3 linked regions of the Homo sapiens genome follow. The protein of the gene in region 3 interacts with the protein of the main gene of each other region in a biochemical or structural test. Each region holds a gene or a part of one and is shown on either strand. Other genes may lie near its edges.

What was found. Proteins that work in one complex are often made in the same cells at the same time.
Region 1: the proteins of MEIS2 (region 3) and DRD1 form a complex in vitro, tested with the Homo sapiens proteins (one study listed by BioGRID).
Region 2: the proteins of MEIS2 (region 3) and TLX1 form a complex in vitro, tested with the Homo sapiens proteins (one study listed by BioGRID).

What each region holds. Positions count from the first base shown.
Region 1 is NC_000005.10:175,441,183-175,448,581, forward strand, and holds the start of DRD1 (D(1A) dopamine receptor), read right to left. Parts: upstream 3,001-7,399; 5' UTR 2,517-3,000; intron 2,401-2,516; 5' UTR 1,918-2,400; coding exon 577-1,917; 3' UTR 1-576.
Region 2 is NC_000010.11:101,134,300-101,138,289, reverse strand, and holds the end of TLX1 (T-cell leukemia homeobox protein 1), read right to left. Parts: coding exon 3,914-3,990; intron 1,623-3,913; coding exon of another isoform or gene 1,619-1,622; exon of another isoform or gene 1,600-1,618; coding exon 1,377-1,599; 3' UTR 501-1,376; downstream 1-500. UniProt on the Homo sapiens protein: Controls the genesis of the spleen. Binds to the DNA sequence 5'-GGCGGTAAGTGG-3'.
Region 3 is NC_000015.10:36,887,792-36,895,474, forward strand, and holds the end of MEIS2 (homeobox protein Meis2), read right to left. Parts: intron 7,471-7,683; coding exon 7,360-7,470; intron 7,022-7,359; coding exon of another isoform or gene 6,963-7,021; exon of another isoform or gene 6,926-6,962; intron 4,669-6,925; coding exon 4,382-4,668; 3' UTR 1,413-4,381; downstream 1-1,412. UniProt on the Homo sapiens protein: Involved in transcriptional regulation. Binds to HOX or PBX proteins to form dimers, or to a DNA-bound dimer of PBX and HOX proteins and thought to have a role in stabilization of the homeoprotein-DNA complex.

The DNA.
Region 1 (7,399 bases), on a different chromosome or scaffold from region 3:
TATTTATTATATCATAAATTAAAAATATCCATATATACAATAAATAAATAGAACCAATATCAACAAAACATCTCTCAATTCTGGAAAAAAATTTCTCACTCCTACTGTAAGCCTCAATTAATGTTTTAGAAATAATTTATGAAGGCATGCACCTACCTTTACAATCTGAAAACTTTGCTGGGAACAGTGTTAGCACCTGTTTGTATACAGCAAACTCAACCCATCTCATTTTCTTCCCAGAAAAATTTGATTTTAAGTGAAGCTGTTCACTGTTGATTCTTTGCCCTATTTGGTAAATCCTAAGATAAGAATAAATTTCTAAAAACAATTCTGAAGCCAAAGACATGTCCCTTATGGCTCCCCATGTTTGTAGTGTCCCTGTTTGATTGACTATGAACAACACAGAAAATACACTGGAATGTATTTGGAAACGGAGTTAATTGTGTGTTGGAAAGCAGCAGAGGGCTCTCCTGACACCTCAGAGTCTCACCGTACCTTAGTTTCTTAATAGCAAGCCCCAGAGCAATCTCCTCTAGCTTTTGGGATGAGCATGTGTGGCAGGATTCATCTGCGAGTTCAGGTTGGGTGCTGACCGTTTTGTGTGATGGGTTGGATCTTCTCCAGAGAGACGTCAGTGTCATAGTCCAATATGACTGATAGGGCTGGGGACAGCTTCTCCAAGGGTCTGGCGATGCCAGCTGCCTCCTCCTTTTTCAGGTCCTCAGAGGAGCCCACAGCATGTGGGATCAGGTAAACCAGATTGCACTCCTTGGAGATGGAGCCTCGTGGCTCATGATGGCTGGAAAACATCGCGGCCCCATTGTTATTGATACTCACCGTCTCTATGGCATTATTCGTCGCAGGGCAAAGTCTGTAGCATCCTAAGAGGGTTGAAAATGCCTTCCGAAAATCAGCATTAAAGGCATAAATGATGGGGTTCAAGGATGAATTAGCCCACCCAAACCACACAAACACGTCAAAGGTGTTGGAATCAATGCAGAAGGGCTGCGTCTCCCCAGACCCACAGAAGGGCAAAATGCAGTTCAAGATGAAGAAAGGTAGCCAACAGCACACAAACACACCCATGATCACCGACAGAGTCTTCAGGACTTTAGTTTCTCTTTTGAAGGACATCTTAAAAGAACTTTCCGGTTGAGAACATTCGACAGGCTTTCCATTACCTGTGGTGGTCTGGCAATTCTTGGCGTGGACTGCTGCCCTCTCCAAGGCCGCAATGCGCCGTATTTGTTTCTGAGCAATCCTGTAGATCCTGGTGTAGGTGACAATCATGATGGCCACAGGGATGTAAAAGCTTATTACAGAGGATGAGATGGCATATGTCCTGCTGAGGCTGGAGTCACAGTTGTCTATGGTCTCAGCCAGGGAAGTGGCATTTCCATCAGAGGGGCTTGTGGGTTTTGCCTTGTGCCAGCTGAGCTGCACTGGGATGAAGGAGATGAGTACAGACAAGGTCCATGCCACACTGATCAGGATGAAGGCTGCCTTGGGGGTCATCTTTCTCTCATACCGGAAAGGGCTGGAGATAGCCCAATACCTGTCCACGCTGATCACACAGAGGTTGAGGATGGATGCAGTGGAGCACATGATGTCAAAGGCCACCCAGATGTTACAGAAGGACCCAAAGGGCCAGAAGCCAGCAATCTCAGCCACTGCCTTCCAGGGCATGACCAGGACGGCCACCAAGAGATCTGACACAGCCAAGGAGATGACAAAGAAGTTGGTCACCTTGGACCGCAGGTGTCGGAACCTGATAACGGCAGCACAGACCAGCGTGTTCCCCAGGAGCGTGGACAGGATGAGCAGCGACAGGAAACAGGCAGTGAGGATACGAACAGAGAAGTCCCTCTCCACCACCAGCCCAGTCCCGTCCATGGCAGAGGTGTTCAGAGTCCTCATCTTCCTAAGAGAAAGCACATCAGGGGCTCTGACACCCCTCAAGTTCCCAAGCAGGGAATAGGGGTCAGTCAGATTTCCAGGAGTCCTCCCCACCAGGCAGCACTTTGCACAGCCAGATTGCTTCCCTGGCAGAGGGCCTCACCAACATTCCATGAGAGGACCGCTTGAGTGGCAATCCAAGTCAATCCCGTGGATGGTCACTCTTGATTTCTACATCTGTCTTCTGACTCCCTTGCTGCAGGTCACTGTCTTGGGCACCAGAAAGCCCCTGAATTCCCCAAATAAAGCACTGGCTTTTTAGCATATTCTAAATCATCAATCCAGTGACTCCTGGGCCTCTGCTCTGCTAGTCAGTTGCAATCACATTTCGGGGCTGTTGCTTTTCTGGTGGTGACAGGAGATTCTCCCCTTCTGAGACTCAGCTGAAAATACATGTCTTCTCGCTCCTCCAAGCCCCTGGCTCCTCAGCAGCTCTCCAAACGCCTTAAAAAGCAAAAGGAAAACACACGGTCTTTCTCCAAGACTTAAGCAGATGGCATCATTACTCACGTCAAGCCCAACCTAATAATTCCCAGGGCGAGCCCGTCCGAGCCACCTACCTTGCCTTGGGGTCGTCTCTCTCAAAGCCCCTGGAGCTTGGAATGTGGACTTCGCTGGGGGCAGCGGCTCCGAAACGTTGAGGAAGCGCGCCTGAGCCCAGCCAGCTGCGCGCAGCAGGGGTTCGGCTCCCGGTGCGCAAAAATCGCCGGGGTGCGTTTGGGGAAAGGATCCCAGGCCAGGTCCCAAGAGAGGCGGCGGCAGCCCACTTCCTTGAAGAGCTGGAGATTGTTCAAAGGGCACTAGACCCCGGCTAAGGGCTCCTGGGCGCTCGGAGCTTCCTTGGGAGAGAGCACTCCCAGGACTGGTCACCTGGGCAGCTTCTTTTCTTGGCTTCCTTTCGAGAGCCCAGAGCCTTGGCGAACCTCGGGCGGCCTTCAGCCCTACAGAGCAGGGCCCCGCGCCTCCCCGCAGGCACTGCCCGCGACCTCTCAGGAGCCTGTGGCAATGCGAGGCAGCGAGCCGAGCTGGCACCAGCAAGCGCACAGGCCGGCGGGGTTCCCGCGGGGCACAGCCCACCCCGCCCGCGCGTCCCCTCCCCTGCCCTGGGGGCGGTCCTCGCTTGACAGGCAGAGTTGCGGGCGACAGCCGCACGTGGTCCCCCTGGATGGTTCTGCGGGCGAGGTGGGCGGAGGACGCCCCGGTGAGTGCTTGCCCTCCCTGGTTACCTCGCCAGTCTCCGGATCCCCGCGCAGCACGCGCAGGGCCCGCGAGGCAAATCCAATGTCAGAACCTCAAGTAAGCTTGAGTCCCCTGAAAGCAAAGCTCAGCCCCGACATCCAGCGCCTCTTGGGGTCAACCCCTAGCCGGACCCAAAGCCCTAAGCGAGCGGGAGCACCCCCCATTCCCCGCACACCAACTCCTAGAACGGCCGGCGGACGTCCGACCTGCGTTGTCTCCAAGTGTCCCCTAACTAGGGTTGGAGATGCCCGTGGGCGCCTGTACTCACCGCTCGCAGGGAGGGCGCGGCGCAGCTGGGATCCGGGCCAGCGCGCGCCGCTGCGCCCCGAGGGGACTCACTCCTTCCCCGCCCAGGTGGCGGGCGCGTCCCGGCTGCGGTCAACGCCGGACTCCAGCCGGTGCCCCGCACCTCCCGAGCGCCCCAACCCCAGCGCCGCGCGCTCCGTGTGCCCGGGGCGCCCTCTGCCGGCGGCTGCGACTTCCCGAGCGCCCGCTGTGCCCTCGCGGGCACCAACCTCACTCACAAGGGTTCCAGCGACCGCCAGGGACCCGCGCCCCGACTCGCTCTTCCCGGTCCATGACTGCCAGAACCTGAAAACAGGGAAGCGGAATCTTCTCCACTCAGGACTCCTCCGCTTGAAACACCCTGAAAAACGGACAAGGGTGAAAAATTTTACTTTGCTGGCATTGCATTCGTGAATCTATGTTTCCTCCTGCGCGCCCACTGCGTTCAAACCTGGGGCGCTAGAGCAGGCGAGACGCAAGCCTTACTCTCAAAGAGAACGGCAGAGCGGGCATTGACTCAGCAGCATCCGTGTTCCCCGGTGCACGCCTTACGTTGTTCCCCCGTTAAAAGAATCTTTCCCCGCCAGGCCGGCTCAACCCGCTTCGCCCAGGTGGAAATGCGGCTCGGAAAGGTAGTGGGGCCTGCTCAAAGTCACACAGCTCACGCGGGAGCCGCGCCGCTGCCCACCTGTTCTTTTAACTCACCGCATGTGGTACAGGAGCCCACAAACTGGAAAATTACCTACAGGGCTAAAATACAGGGAAGAGTCATATGGAGGCAGCGGGGCCTGGTGGAGAAGGAGCCCCCAGCCTCCCCTGGTTGCCCCAGGCAAGCTCACAGGTGAGACTTTGCACTAATTGTGCATAAATTGCGACACTGTGGTGCCTTCCTGTGCCTTCCGAAAGGTGGGAGGAGAATAAGCATGGATCCCCCAAGTCACACTGCCTGACTTCCTGGTCCTGCCCTGCCACTGTCGGCTGCATGTGCACTCTCTCCTCTCTGAGCTCGGGTTCTTCCTCTGTGAAACGGTGAGGACATAACAGGATTGTCATAACTATTAACTGAGACGGTGTTTCCAGAGGGCTTGGCACCAAACCTAGGACCCCGTCAGCCCTCCATAGGCAGGAACCCCTGGGACCCATTAACAAACCAACAGTCCAGGCCAAGCGCGGTGGCTCACGCCTGTAATCCCAGCACTTTGGGAGGCCGAGGAGGGCGGATCATGAGGTCAGGAGATCGAGACCATCCTGGCTAAAACGGCAAAAATACAAAACAAAATTAGCCGGGCGTGGTGGCAGGCACCTGTAGTCCCAGCTACTCGGGAGGCTGAGGCAGGAGAATGGCGTGAACCCGGTAGACGGAGCTTGCAGTGAGCCGAGATCGCGCCACTGCACCCCAGCCTGGGCGACAGAGCGAGACCCCGTCTCAAAAAAAAAAAAAAAAAAAAACTAACAGTCCAATCTCCACAACAGCCATGCACCATATCAGAAGCAAGAATTTTCTCTGGGAAAAAAAAAAAAAACCCTAAACCAAAGTAATAATTCCATTTAGTTCGCCAGCACAAACTGTACTTTGGTTGTTTGTTTATTTAGAGACAGAGTCTTGCTCTGTCGCCCAGGCTGGAGTGTAATGGTGCTATCTTAGCTCACTGCAACCTCCGTCTCCAGGGTTCAAGCGCTTCTCCTGCCTCAGCCGCCCAAGTAGCTGGGATTACAGATGTCTGCCACCACATCCGGCTAATTTTTTGTATTTTTAGTAGAGATGGGGTTTCACCATGTTGGCCAGCCTGGTCTTGAACTCCTGACCTCAGGTGATCCACCGGCCTTGGCCTCCCCAAGTGCTGGGATTACAAGCGTGAGCCATCGCGCCCGGCCTTTGGCACCTTGGCTTAAGATGAAAGGACCATATTGCTGGCACAGACCCTCCGGTGCCTGTGCTTACAGCTGTCTCCTCCCACCCATGGCCTCGCCGTCACACACAGCGTCCAACAGACTGGGGGTCAGAGACGCAATTGTTGCCACACACATTCCCCAAGAACTGCATTTCTGTAGAGCCCTAAGTCACGCTTAACGTAACACTTTCAGATCACTTTCCCCAAGGCCGTCATTCTCCAAACTTCTTGACTTTGTTTCATTTTCTTTCTTTCCCTTTTACTAATAAACACAAATTAAAGATATGTTTCTGGTTCGAGACTTGTCATGTAAGCCTGAGCATTTAACTCCTGACATTCTACCCTGGCATCTGCAATTTTCCACTGAAACTACCCAGAAATAAAATAGGTAGGAGAAATTCAGCATTAACCTTGGAAAGCAGGAACGGGTAGGATCCTGATCTGTGGGATAATGAGCCAGTGGAATTGGACTGGGCAAAGCAGGACTCCATAGGAATATTCCATATGGCAAGAAAATGTACTTCAGGAAGTAACCTCAAAAGAACACACTACCTGCCCTGCCACCCCAAAATCGAGATAGCAGACTCTGGAGGTAAGGATAAGGCCAATTTGAGGGATAAAATTTCTGTCTAATGACTGCCTTTCAGAAGTGCCCCCAATTCCCAAGTCTTCTCAGAGCCAACAACAATGCCACTGCTCTTGTAATTAAAAAACAAGGATGACAAACACAGCACAACACCTGGGCTTCAGGTGGTATCATGCTCAAGAAAACAGCAGTTTAACAGTGGGAAAATATTTGACACAACATTTAAATATTAATCAAAATTTTGTTCAAAGGAACATTCATAACATACTTCATATTCTCATTTCTCTCAAGCCCACCAGCTGCTCAAAAAACCTTTTTGTTTTGCTTGAAAAATCACCTAAATTATTTCAAACTAGCCCATACTGACCTTTATCTTTTTCTCTCAACCCATTTATCTGACAAGTCCAGGTGATCAAATCAACACATACCATTTTGGTAGTGATTGAGAGCTATTTCTTGACCACAAGTAAATTTCTGTCATTTCAATATTAAATCTCCTCCCTACCCATATGCTATGGTTTGAATGTCTCTGCCAAAACTCATGTTGAAATTTAATTGCCATTGTGACAGGATTAAGAGTTGGGACCTTTAAGAGGTGATTAGGCCAAAGGGTTCTGCCCTCCTGGGTGGACTAATGCCATTATCTCGTTATCTCTGGAGTGGGTTAGTTACTGCTGGAGAGAGCTCCTGATAAAAGGATAAGTTCAGCCTCCATTCCCTCCCTGCCTCTTGTGTAGTCTCTTCTTCTGCCAAGTTATGATGCCACCCCACGATCTGAGACTTCCCAGCCTCCAGGAACTATGAGCCAAATAAACTTACATTGTTTATAATTTACCCAGTTGGTGGTATTCTGTTACAGTAGCAGAAAACAGACTAGACATCATAACATACAAAAAAGGCTCAGAAACCCAGCCAGCAAAGCAAAAACGACTAACAGGTAGAGAAGGAGAGAACCTGAGAATAACCAAGGAGGTGATTTTGTTTAAGATCACCAGGAAAACCAGAGGGTTGGACCAGTTTGTCTATCATTCTATAACTCACTGCCTGAGATTCCTTCCTAACAGACATAGGTCACTGGCTTTTGAACGTCATTGCTGAGAGAACAGGAAAGAGTAAAATGGAGCTGAAATCTCAGTGTTTCACTTTGCACAGAGTGTGAATTTCAGAGGAACTTACAGTTTTGCTAGAGGTTTGGAGTTTTTCCTATTTTCTTATTTGAAGCTACGGTGAAACAAAGCCTTCTATTTTGTTCTATAAAAATCTCCCCCACAAACCTCAAGAACACAAATGTAAATGCAATCAGGTATTAGATCATGCTGAGAATGTAAACCCAACACAAAAGCACCTTTGTTTCCCAATTTAGTGTGTCTTTTAAGCTCTACTGTGGGTGATTTATGCACTGCGAAGAGGAGGATGTCAAAATGATGCTTTTCAACAAATC
Region 2 (3,990 bases), on a different chromosome or scaffold from region 3:
ACACAATTACCCAAAAAGAAACAGTCACATTCACATACGGTTACACACACACCACTACAAGCCCGTGCATACAATGATAGTTTCGATTTGCAACTTAAGCAGAAACAAGCATTTACACGCAAGAATTGCAAACACAATTATACACTTAAATACCATTATAAATATTCACTATTTGCTCGCATTGCTGATTGCTCACATTATCACAAACACACCACACACACACACACACACACACACACACACACGACTCTCACATCCAAAGAAATCCACATCCTCTCAGGCACTGGTAATCCCAGGAGAGCCTGGCTCTCCCTGCTCTCCTCAACTCTGCCTTCTCTCCATCTGTCCTCTTCCTTTCCTCTCTCCAGAGCCTTAGGGTCCTGCCCCGCAACATGTCTCTCAAGTTCAGGTACCAAGGGCTGCCCCTGAAGCATCAGCTCACACACCAAACCCAAGTAGCTGAAGGACGCTAGGGTCCGCAAGGAGCAGGCAGCCCTGACTCCGGATCCGGAGGCTTTTATTTATTTTTTTCACATAAATTACACAAGCACTTTATAAAATGGTTACACAGAAAACACCTTATAAGTGCATAAATTAACACCCCCCCACCCCTCAAATGGGTTCTGGAGAAATGGGCTGCATTTATGTGAAAACCTGTCTGTGCGTACCTGGATTGGGCTGGGATGTGTGGTGGGGGCCTGGCAGACCAAGTGAGGCTGTTGTAGCTGTTGGCTGTTGTGTGTGGTGTAGTGTGTCACAGTGTGGCCATGACCTTGTGTTTGTGCTGGAGGGAGTGCCATGCTGTTCAGGATGAGTCTGTGTCACCCCTGACCTGTGCCTGATCGTAAGGTCCAAAGTGTAAACACTGTGACCCTCTGTCTGGTTGACACTCTCCCATAGATGCCCATGTGTGGCTCTGGGGTGACACCAGGAGGGACAGTGACACCACCTGTGTGTGGGCCTATGGGTTTCCATGTGTGTGATGAGAAGTGGGTCACAGAGAAGGGGTTTCCCAGGGCAAATTCAGATGACAGCCCTGGGGACCCCAGAAGCTCCTCCTCCCTTACCTCCCTTGCCTTTCTCTGAATCCCACGTTAAAAATTAAAATAAAATGAAATAAACAAAAACAGATTTCTTAACAGTTCAGACAGGTGCGGGACGCCTCTGGGAGGGGGGCGCGTGTCCTTGTCCCTTGAGCTCTTCCACCGAAGGGAGAACAGTGTCGGCACAAATGTGGGGGCCCTTCGGGGCCGTGCGAGGGCAGTGTTCCCCTCCTGGGTGCAGTCTGAGGCCAGGAGGGTGGGGAGGAGTCCTGGGTCTCAGGCCTCAGTGACCCCTGAGTGGGCCTGGGGTCCCACAGGGCAGAATGGGCAGGCTCACTCGCAGGCCGACGCCACCGACGTGACGCTAGTGATTTTGGTCGAGTCGTCAGACCACGGCTGCAGATTCTGCAGGGCGAAGAGCGACGAGTTGTGCACGCACAGAGGGTCAGCGGGCAGCGGCTGTGCCAGGCTCTTCTGGAAGGCCTCCTGCTGCAACTGCAGGAGGATGCGGTTCGCTTGCTGCCTCTCGGCCTCCCGTTCCTCCGCAGTCTGCCGTCTGCACCGGGAACAAGCCGTTACCTGCCAGGAGCACCGACCCAGCTCCCGCGTGTGCCCAACTCCTGGTGCGTTCCCAGGAGATAAACTGAACGAGCGCTGCTCGCCTTTGCAGTCCCCAAATCCAGTTTGGGCCCCTATAACGCGTTCCCTTCTTTTGAGAGTCCTGACTCCAACAAAGACTGGAAACCCCAAAGCGGATGGAGCCAAGGTATCCCAGAGGAGGAGCGATGGGAAAGTCTGCGAGGCCCAAACAGCTGGGACTCGCATCCACGCGCAGCGCCCACACCCCGGAGGCCTCACAAGGGGCAGCCGGGGTAGGATGGCATCTCGCCTCCCCCTCCCCGGCCCTGAGGGAGACCAGGTGCCATTCCAAGCCAGAGGGCCCTCACCCTACCCACAAGTCCAGGGCAGAGAGGCAAGGACCAGCGGGTACGATCTGCTCTGCGGGACGTCTCTTTCCTCCCTCTCTCTGCGAATGTCTTCTAGGACTTGGGCCTTCTGTGTGGAGCCCTGTGCCCTACCGGGGCTCCTGCTGGACCCACTGGCTTCCTCTGAGGCAGTTCAGGGAGGCGATGACTCACTTATTCCATTTACTGCCGCCCCTCCACCCTGTCAACTGAGATCAAACGTCTGTCTCTAAGGTGGACAGACCTAATGGGAGTCCCTGGGGCCTTCAGAAGCAATTTGTAGGCGATCGATGAAGCCATGCGAAGCCTGCAAGGGCCTCTTCCAGCAGCGGCTGCTGACCTGCTCTGGGCCGCCTTTTCTTGACTCTGTGTATCTTTCCGTCTTTCGTCTTTCCCTTATCCCCTGCATTTCAAACGGCCTGAATATTTCTCTTTTAGGCTTTGTGTCTTATCTCTCGTTTTCTCTCCTCCCCACCCACTTGGTTCTCTCTGAATTAAAGGAATTTGTTTGAAAAGAAAATGGTGGTTTCAGTCATCCATTGCTTTTTCTTTATTATACATAAATAAGACTTCTGCAGGCTGCCTGTTTTTCTCCTTTTTTTTCCTTGAGCGGGGTCCCTATCCCTCTCCACCTCTGAAACTGGTTGTGTTTCAGTTTCTCTCTTTGCCTGCCTCTTTCTTTCTCTGTGCCCCTCTCTCTGGGAGGCCTGCCAGGCTGCCTCTCCTCCCCTAGGCCAGCAGCCCTCAGTAGGCCTTGGAAACCGGAGTCCCCCCAACCCCCGAGCTAGCCCTGGCTCCCTCTTTAGCGTTCCAAGGTCTGAGGCCGCATCCCCCACTCCTTTCCCAGCGTCAGAAATGTTGTGGTAGAATCGTGGGGCCATGGCTTCCTTTGTGGCCCCGTAGGCGGAATCCCAGGCAGATTCCTCGCCTTCGTTCAGAAAAAGAGGAAACTCCAATTCCTTCCTCCTGCCCCAAGGCCCGCCCGTCTCGGCGCCGCCGACTTCGCCCAGACTCTCCCGCGCTACCCCATGGGGCCTGAGCTAGGGGAGAAACTCCGGCGGGCAAGGGCCAGATGTGCGGGAGGGTGCAGCGTGCCAGAGGGTGCAGCGTGCCAGAGGGTGCAGCCGGAGAAAGCGTCAGTGCGCGCGGAGAGGGAGGCTGCTCGAGAGTGTTGGGGACGCTTCACGTCCGTGAGCGTAAATGTGAAAAAACAAAACAAAACAAAAAGCCCATTGCGTAGTAACTAGAGTTGTGGCTATGGGAGAAGGAAAATTCTCTTTCTCACACACACCCATCTGCTCCTAATTGATTCCCCTTCCAGTGGGACCCGCGAAACCCCGCCGCAGCCGGCGCGGATTGATTTTCTCCTTCCAGGGTAGGGACCGGCTGCGCAAAGGCCGGGTGTCTGGGGGAGGAGACCGTCAGCAGGGCCGCGGTCTGGGGCCACAGACCCTCTGCCGGGAGCCCGGCTGGAGCGCTGCAACAAGGTGCGGGCTGTTCTGCATCCAGTCTCCAGGACAGAGCAGGATTCCATAAGCAAGAGTTTGCGCAAACAAAAAGCTCCCCAGGACTCACAGATCCCTGGAGCCTGGACTGCGTGGAGTGCACTAACCCGCCTGTTTGCCCAAGCGGCGGAATAGACCTGCCGCGTCTACACCGGCAGAGAGTGTGCCAACCAGAAAGCCCTGAAGCCTCCGGTAAAACAGAGCCAGGGCTCTTCAGCCCCATCCCAGCTATCGGCCTCGGTTGCTTCCAGCTCCCCGCAAGCCTAGCGGGAGCTCGCTCCTCCGAAAGGATCAGAAACCGCGAGCGGAAAAAGTATGTGCGCCCCACGAGAGGCCAATGAACCGAGAGCTGCCTGAGACCGCGCCGCTCGCGGGCGGCCGGCCCGCCCCGCTTGCTCACCTCCACTTTGTCCGCCGGTTCTGGAACCAGGTTTTGACCTGCGCATCGGTCATTTTGAGCGCCTTGGCCAGGGCGGC
Region 3 (7,683 bases):
ACAAACCAACCAACCAAACCCATCTGAAAGAAAACAAAGGCAGCATCTGGGCGACACCCCCCTTCCTGCGTTCCCCCCAGTTATTTACTGGGTGACCCCGTCCTTTCTCTTCACCTCCTCACCCAGCGCCTCGGATTATGAGATAATGGATTTTGCGATTGTTCTTGTCAGGGAAAAAAATCTCCACAGAACCCCACGTTTTCATCTTTCAACTGTTTTATTTAAGCCAATGGGAAGGTATTGAGGGCAGTAATTGATTCATAATGATCCATAAATCGATGTCGGAAAGCGGGGGGAGAGGGTGGAGGTGTACTAAGAGTATGGGGGGGTGGCGATGCTGTTTATTTCTAAAGCTTCAACTAAAGTAGCTTTGACACTGTTGGGGCTGGGGGGGGAGGAGCTGTTGGGCTCTGCCGGATCATCCATCATTCCTGTCACCCAGAGTCTGCCCGGAGGAGCCGTAGACGCAATCTCCCTTCTGTCTCTACACCGAAACTATTAATATTAAAACCTCCCTTCAAACACTGCCCCGACGGTCTCCATTCTCATCACAATCTGACCGGCCTCCCCCATCAGACCAGCATTTCCCCCGCGCGGCACTTTCTCCCAGCCCCGGCCCCGACGGAGGGGGCCCGCCCCGGCGCGCGACGCCCTGAGTTGATGACTGCAACTGTAACTGGGACGGGCCCCCCGTGCCCCCATAGTTTGCAATACGTTGGTCTAACTCTAACACACGCGCCCAGGGAAGGCCAGGTGAGGGCCAGGGTAGCCCTCTGCACGCCCCTCTGCCGCGGCCCAAGCCTCTGTCCTGCCTCCTCCTAGGCTCCAGGACGCACGTCTGCACCAACCCCGCTGGGTGGGCGGCGGGGGCTGCGGCCGCGAAGCTGGGGTCACTCCGCGCATCCAGACACCCGGACACCGGACTTTCTAACTGAGTGGCAACTTGTAGCGGAGGTCCAGGCTCCTTATCAAATTGCTGGCCTGCTAGCTAATGGAGAACTTGTGGAGGATCCCTGTCCAGTCCCTTTGAAGGAAGGTCCCTCCTTTGACAGCTGCTAGAGATATTAGCCACATTTCCCTTCCCAAATCTGCTCCGGGTTAACAGGCCCGCGGGGGCGGGAGGGGGTGAGGAGGCAGGAGGATCCTGGTGGACTCTAACGAGGGTGAGAGCTGAGGGGCGTGAGGGGTGCTGACCTAGGGGGTGGAAGAGAGGAGGGGTGGACGGAAGACACAGACTTTCCTGGTCTTTTCTCTCTTTTTCGTTTAAAATGTGGCTTCTTGCTCAATTCCCAACCCTTAACAGATGGCGACTGCAGTTCTCTCAGAATTTCTTAAAGAAAGGGAAACCTTTGGAATTTATTTCTGCTTTTGCTTTTTCATATAAATAAAAAAGTGTTTTTATATTACTCTTGTTTTGGAGAACATAAGCAATTTTATTCAGACTACAGTATTTCCTTTAACACTATATGGTTGTCAAAACACCATTCCCAGTTTCTTTGCTTTTGACAGCTGAGTCTTTCTTAAATATACCCAAATCGGAACTCTTTACACTAAATAGTAAACCCGAGATAGGAGCAAGTGCCTTCCGGGGTGGTGTAAAAAAAGCATTATAAAAATTGGACAAATCTATCACTTCTCTGTGTTATCATGGGGTTGGGGGTGGGGGAGAGCAAGGTAATGCAAACAAATATTACAATTATCATTCATCTCCAAATATTTAAGAAGGTTAAAGTTAACATGATAGGACGTGGGTTTGACGAATAAACTAAGCATGAGATGACTTTATTCATTAAAACCAAGAGTTGAGAGCTCTGGTCTCTAAACTTCAATGAGATAACTTGATAATTGCATAAAACACATCCTAAACACGAGCCAATTGCCAAGGAAACCCTTCAGAATTTACTGAGTGGAAAGAAAAAAAGGTTCTTTTTCCCACCTGATGTGAGAGTTGATTTATAATGGGGAATTTTCATAGTTTACATAAAAGTATTTAAAGTAAAAATAGGCAAATATTTAAAATTTACAAAAAGACTTCATGTAAAATAGAATAGCAAAAATGAGAGGGAAGCTATCTCTCTTTCCCAAGTGGCACTGAATTTCTCTATTAAGTTAGTTTGTGTCAGAAGCATTATTTCTATGTTTAAACAGCAACACAACACTTAAACTGAAATGTATTTGTAAAAATTCTACCTGACTAAATATAACACAAAACAATAGAAGTGTATTTCCTCGTTCATTTATATAGAACCTCCATAAATGCTGTCTGAAATGGAAAGATGGAAGAGCCCCAAATAATAACTATGGATTTCTTCCAAGTTTAAGTTTGCAGAGATGATGAATAATTTCCTTAGCCGGTTGACATCACATATCTAGCCAAAGTATATGACATTATTCTTTCTAAACAAAGATTCAAAATTTAAGAGTTAAAAAATTCCAGGATAGTATATTTATTTGAAAATTGAGGGGACATGCCTCACCCTTTTTGCACACTTTAGCAGACATTGTTTGTGCAGTATCAATAAGCTAATGGTATAGATTTCCAGGAATGTTGCATAAAATTTTGAAAATGGCATTATACCGTCCATTTTGTTTTGTTTTGTTTTCAGAAAAAAGTTTAAGTTTAGTTATCAAATCATCACACTAGCATCCCTGCACATGGATGTGTCTGAAATAAAAATATACCACAATATAATTTATAAAATATTAATGATTAAGTAATCTTTTAAAGTCAGAATTTCAAACTCCATAGAAGTTGTTTACTTATCTATGAACACCCATATGTAAATTTTCATTTACATATCCAACAATATTGTAGTAAGACAGGCAGAGGAAAAACACAGGCAGATAAATTACCTTTGAGCACAGACATTATTTCTTATGTTGTAAAATTAACCCTGAAAAGTCCTTTATTCTGGCAGAGGATGCCCATGAAAAGCTTTATCTGAAAGTATATATTTTTTAACGTCATGCATCTAAAAAGGAGGTTGAGCATGTTCAAGGGGATCTTTCAACCTGGCTCATCATGTACACATAGTTTCGTACCTTTAGAAGTTTTCTGCTGGTGGAACTTATAGGTCAAATAGACATTGAAAGGCTATAGATGATTACCTTAAAAATTATTGATGAGTTTAAAATATACTCAACTGCTGGGGGGAAAAACCTACTTTTAACACTGTATAGAGTTGGCATTGTGCAGTCTTGTCCTAAAACCATTAAAAACGCAAAAGCCTAACAAAAAATCAAAAATGAAATATTTATTACCGCTTTTTGTGACTTAACACCTTTTTTTTTTTAACATAACGTCACAGTCCTCATACAAGTATTTTAATGTAAATTTGACAAAGCTTAAAGGTAACAGCATTTTCTTCTAGTGAGGAACACGTGCTGAGAAAAGAAGAATTCATGGACATACAATACCAATTCCACAGCAGATCTGATACTAGCAAAAACATTCTTTTTTTTTTCAATTGAGGTAAACACATAGAATATCTAACATGAAACAATTAATAGACCGAACTCTGTACGAAGTTTGTTACAGTATTCTCTTGCTCCTTTTTATCCCCCAAGCTTTGAGTTTCTGATAAAGTCCTAGTTATGGTTCAATGACCATTAATAACTTTTTTTTGTGTTGAGGAAAGCTGCCCAACTTAAGATTGTTTTGTCCACAACCAAGGCTCAGAACTCCTGGAAGAAGCTCCTGCTCTGTCTTTAAATCTTCATTGGCAAGCTCTTTGAAGAAGAGTCCCCCAAAAATAATAATAAGAATTGGCTTATGAAGCACGAACTATAAAGATCTGTTTGAAACTAAAGGACACATTTATGGAGGAACAAAGGCCGGGCATGAAAACACATTCTTGAAGCTGGAGTTCGAGTGATGAGGTTCAGCCAAAAGTTCATCATGATCTCCAGTGTGGTTCTTTTCTCATTGGCCCAACAGGTTTAAAATATATACCACAGTCTCTCCTGGATGGTGAATTCACTGATGAACCAAAACAGTCATTCTTTTGGGAACAACACACATAGTGTGGAAAACAAGGATATATTTTTTTTTCTCTTCTAAAACTATTTGAGGCAACATAACGGCGTGATCAACAGAAATGTACAAGTTTAACTTAGTTCCTATATTTATACTACAGTAGTTATAACTCTCGGAGTCTTTTTCCAGAGGATCTTTACATGGACAGAATTGTCTCAGTCAGCCCATGATTTCACATTTGTGTTCTTGTTGCATTGGTCCTCTGTTGCTTGATGAAAAATGACAAAAGTAAAAAATAATCACAGCTGTCTGGAATTTCATATTAAGTGTCAACATCTGGTCAAAGTTCAGAAAGTCTTAAAATAGTTTTTGCGTGTGTTTCCTTTTCCCTTGAGTTCCCTTATACTATTGGGCATGAATGTCCATAACCTGTCCGCCAACATTGGGATCTACAGAATTTAACATTGTGGGGCTCTGTGCTGACATAGTCATTCCAGGGTGGGTAGGGGGTCCTCCGTGCATCATCATGGCTGGGTGGTGGGGATGGCTTGGCAAATATGAATGCATTGGGGGTCCATGTCTTAATTGAGTAGGGTGTGGGGTCATCTGGGGAGGAGTGTAACTTGGCTGTGCCATACTCATTCCCATAGGACCACCCTGAGAAACGTAGTCCCCTGGCATGCTCTGCAAACCTGAAAATAGAGAGGGAAAAAGAAAGCGGGTCAAATTCCTAAACATTTTTATACTTTACCCATCAAAGATGAAAAGAAAAAAAAAAAAAAAACAACAGACACTGCAAATCTTATACCTAAATTTAGCTGCAGATTCTTGCCAATGTTTGCAGACATTCAAATTGTAGTTTGCATTTAATTTCATCGCACAGCAGTATAATGCAACACAACAGAACTAAATATTTAATGCAACTAAATGTCATAAAGTGGAACTGTTTTTCAAAATGGTATTCAGTACATTTCTTTGATAAATGCAATAAGAATATAAATTTTGAGTCGAGTTTTATCAGTTAACTGTTGATAGATCATTTATTTTTCTGTGTTGCATTTGTAGACCTGGACAAAAATTGTAGATAGTAGAATAAAATAAAATTGACATCTTATCATATCTATATTTCCTCATGAAAAATTTATTACACAAAACATTACAGCATATTCATTTTGAAGAAATGAGCTTTTACGTGTATTTAAAATGAAGCCCCCTTTTTGAATTAGAGGCATTCCTATAGCAGTACACCCAAGAGATTGTAAAGGTCAAAGGTAAGAAGTCAATGTGAGGTCATATGACATGCCCGGTAGTTTATCTCTGAAAATCCCCCCAAATAATGCCTTGATATTAGGAATAAAATGTAATAAATGTAGAAATTCTCAATTGAGATATGCAACATTCAAAGTTATGAGTTAAATGGTGGGAAGTCAGCAATTGTAAGGATTCTGATTTCTCTTACAAGTTACCTGTTTATTGAATTAAGGTTATATTTACTGTTGCACATCCCCGGATCTAAAAGGACAGCTTTATTCACCTCTATTTAACCTCCAGTGCATACAGTTGAAAAGCTGAACAGATGTTTTTGACACTGTAAGCTGGTAATCTAAAGGCTTATATGCTGCAGTCATTTTGTTAAGTAGATCCGCAGTCCATTATTAACAGAAGTGGCAAAACCATCTAAAGACAATAACACAGCCTGCATAGTCCCAGCTCTCTGTTTATTCTACCACAGCAGCCTGCTCAATGGATGATGATAATTAAGTACCAAATATACCATATTGTGTGGCTGCATAATCAAATCAAGAGAGGATAATATTCTTCTGTATTAAGCTATTAATGTAATTGGTCATGAAGCATAAAATATGTTATGTAATTAAATAGGCTAGAAATTATATGGCCTATATTAAGAACTATCCAAGCTGAGCAAATGTTTTCTCTATAGCTGTTTTAGGGAACATTGCTTTCTACATTTTTTGACTGCATTAGTAAAGGAAGGAAGGAAGGAAATTGGCTTCATCAATGGTGTGCCGTGGTGACCCCCTGAGCTCCCCTATAAAATGTTGGCCTCTATTTACATATAGAGAATGATTTAATCAAGGTACGTGTTGTTATATTCAGCCTCATTAAACAAGGAAGTTTCAATGTTATATGAATTTTTTTATGCTCTGGTGTCTTCAGCAAAGGATATATCTTGTTGGCAGACTCTGAATTTTTTTCAGATGTCAAAAACACTTGAAGCTTTAAAGTCTAATGGGTTTCTTAATCCAACTGCAGCCATTCAGCCTCAGTGAAAAATCCATTCCTTCATATTCAGTTGCTCCTAAATGTCTTTCCCTTTAAATTTATTGACTGACTTTCCTGTCTTTCTGTCTCATGTCGGAAGTCAGTAGGCACATGTAAAAAATAATCAAAACACACCGACTCCCTAGTGAAGAATCAATGGTGTCACTGCTGTCATATATCTAGACTAGGCATAATGAACTGCAGCATTTCATCTTTGCATATAAGATAATTTGGGCATCAATCGTATTCTGACAGATTTATGTCACTCAAAGGACAGTTCTACTTTTCCTTTTTTTTTTTATCGCTTCATTGAAGCCTGCTTAATTTCTCTCAGTCAACTGGTGCCCCCAAGACATTATTTTTATTCTTAAATGTCCAATATCTGCCTGATGTCTGTGTTTGTGCACATTGGGGCCACAGTAAATAGGCTAAAAGGCAGTCCCACCTGCTTAAAACACACGCAGGCTTGTCAGTTGGCCTTTTCAAAAGTGCACATCAGTGTCATCTGTGACTTCAGAGATGGGTGATATATATTTAAAAACAGGTCCTTAGTTTGGAAAGGCATGCAGTTATGGGCAAGGAAAAATAAAATGGGGGCAAATTATAAAAAATAAAATAAAGTCTCTGAAGTGATAGTGAAGACAGATCGCACCCGACTGTACTTACTTCCCCCTTGCTTTGCGATTGCTTTACATGATGAAGGTTACATGTAGTGCCATTGCCCATCCATGCCCATATTCATGCCCATTCCACTCATAGGTCCTAGAAAGGAGATAAAATCCAAGAAGAGGCCGGAAAATCAGCAATAATTGATGGTGAAAAAATAGAAGGAAACTCAGATTCCTTTTCACTTATTGCCTTGGTTTAAAAAGAAAAAAGAAAAAGGATGTGTATGGGGCAGAGTATAATGGTACTGTGGTAAAATCTTTACTTTTTCAAAGAGGAATTTTTTCCCCCACCCAATGTAAAGAAAGCAGGCAGAGCAGGCAGCAGGCAAATGTTAAACCCACCATGACAGTGGGATAGTAGAGTGGATGGAGAGGCTGGTGGAGCAGGTGGCACTTCCCAGGGAAGCCCAGAGGCGGGATGAGCCAACCTACCTGCAGGCCGGATCCCCATGTGTTGCTGACCATCCAACACAAAGCTCCCCATGGGCTGACCCTCTGGACTATATGCTGCTCCTTGGCTCACTGAAGGATCAAGAAGAAAACCTGATTGTGGTCATTCGAGGACACAGAGGAGAAAGAAGAAAAGATATACCAAACAATCAGCAATTGTTCCCGCTGCAGCACTGAAACGTTATAGCAACAATGTGGTTGGCACTCTACAAATGGGGGTGTGGTTTGTCTGAGTGTCTTGATGACTGAGTGAAGGTGTGTGAGTAGCTTTAAAAATGTTCTGGAAGAAAGACTTCACTGGCCAGT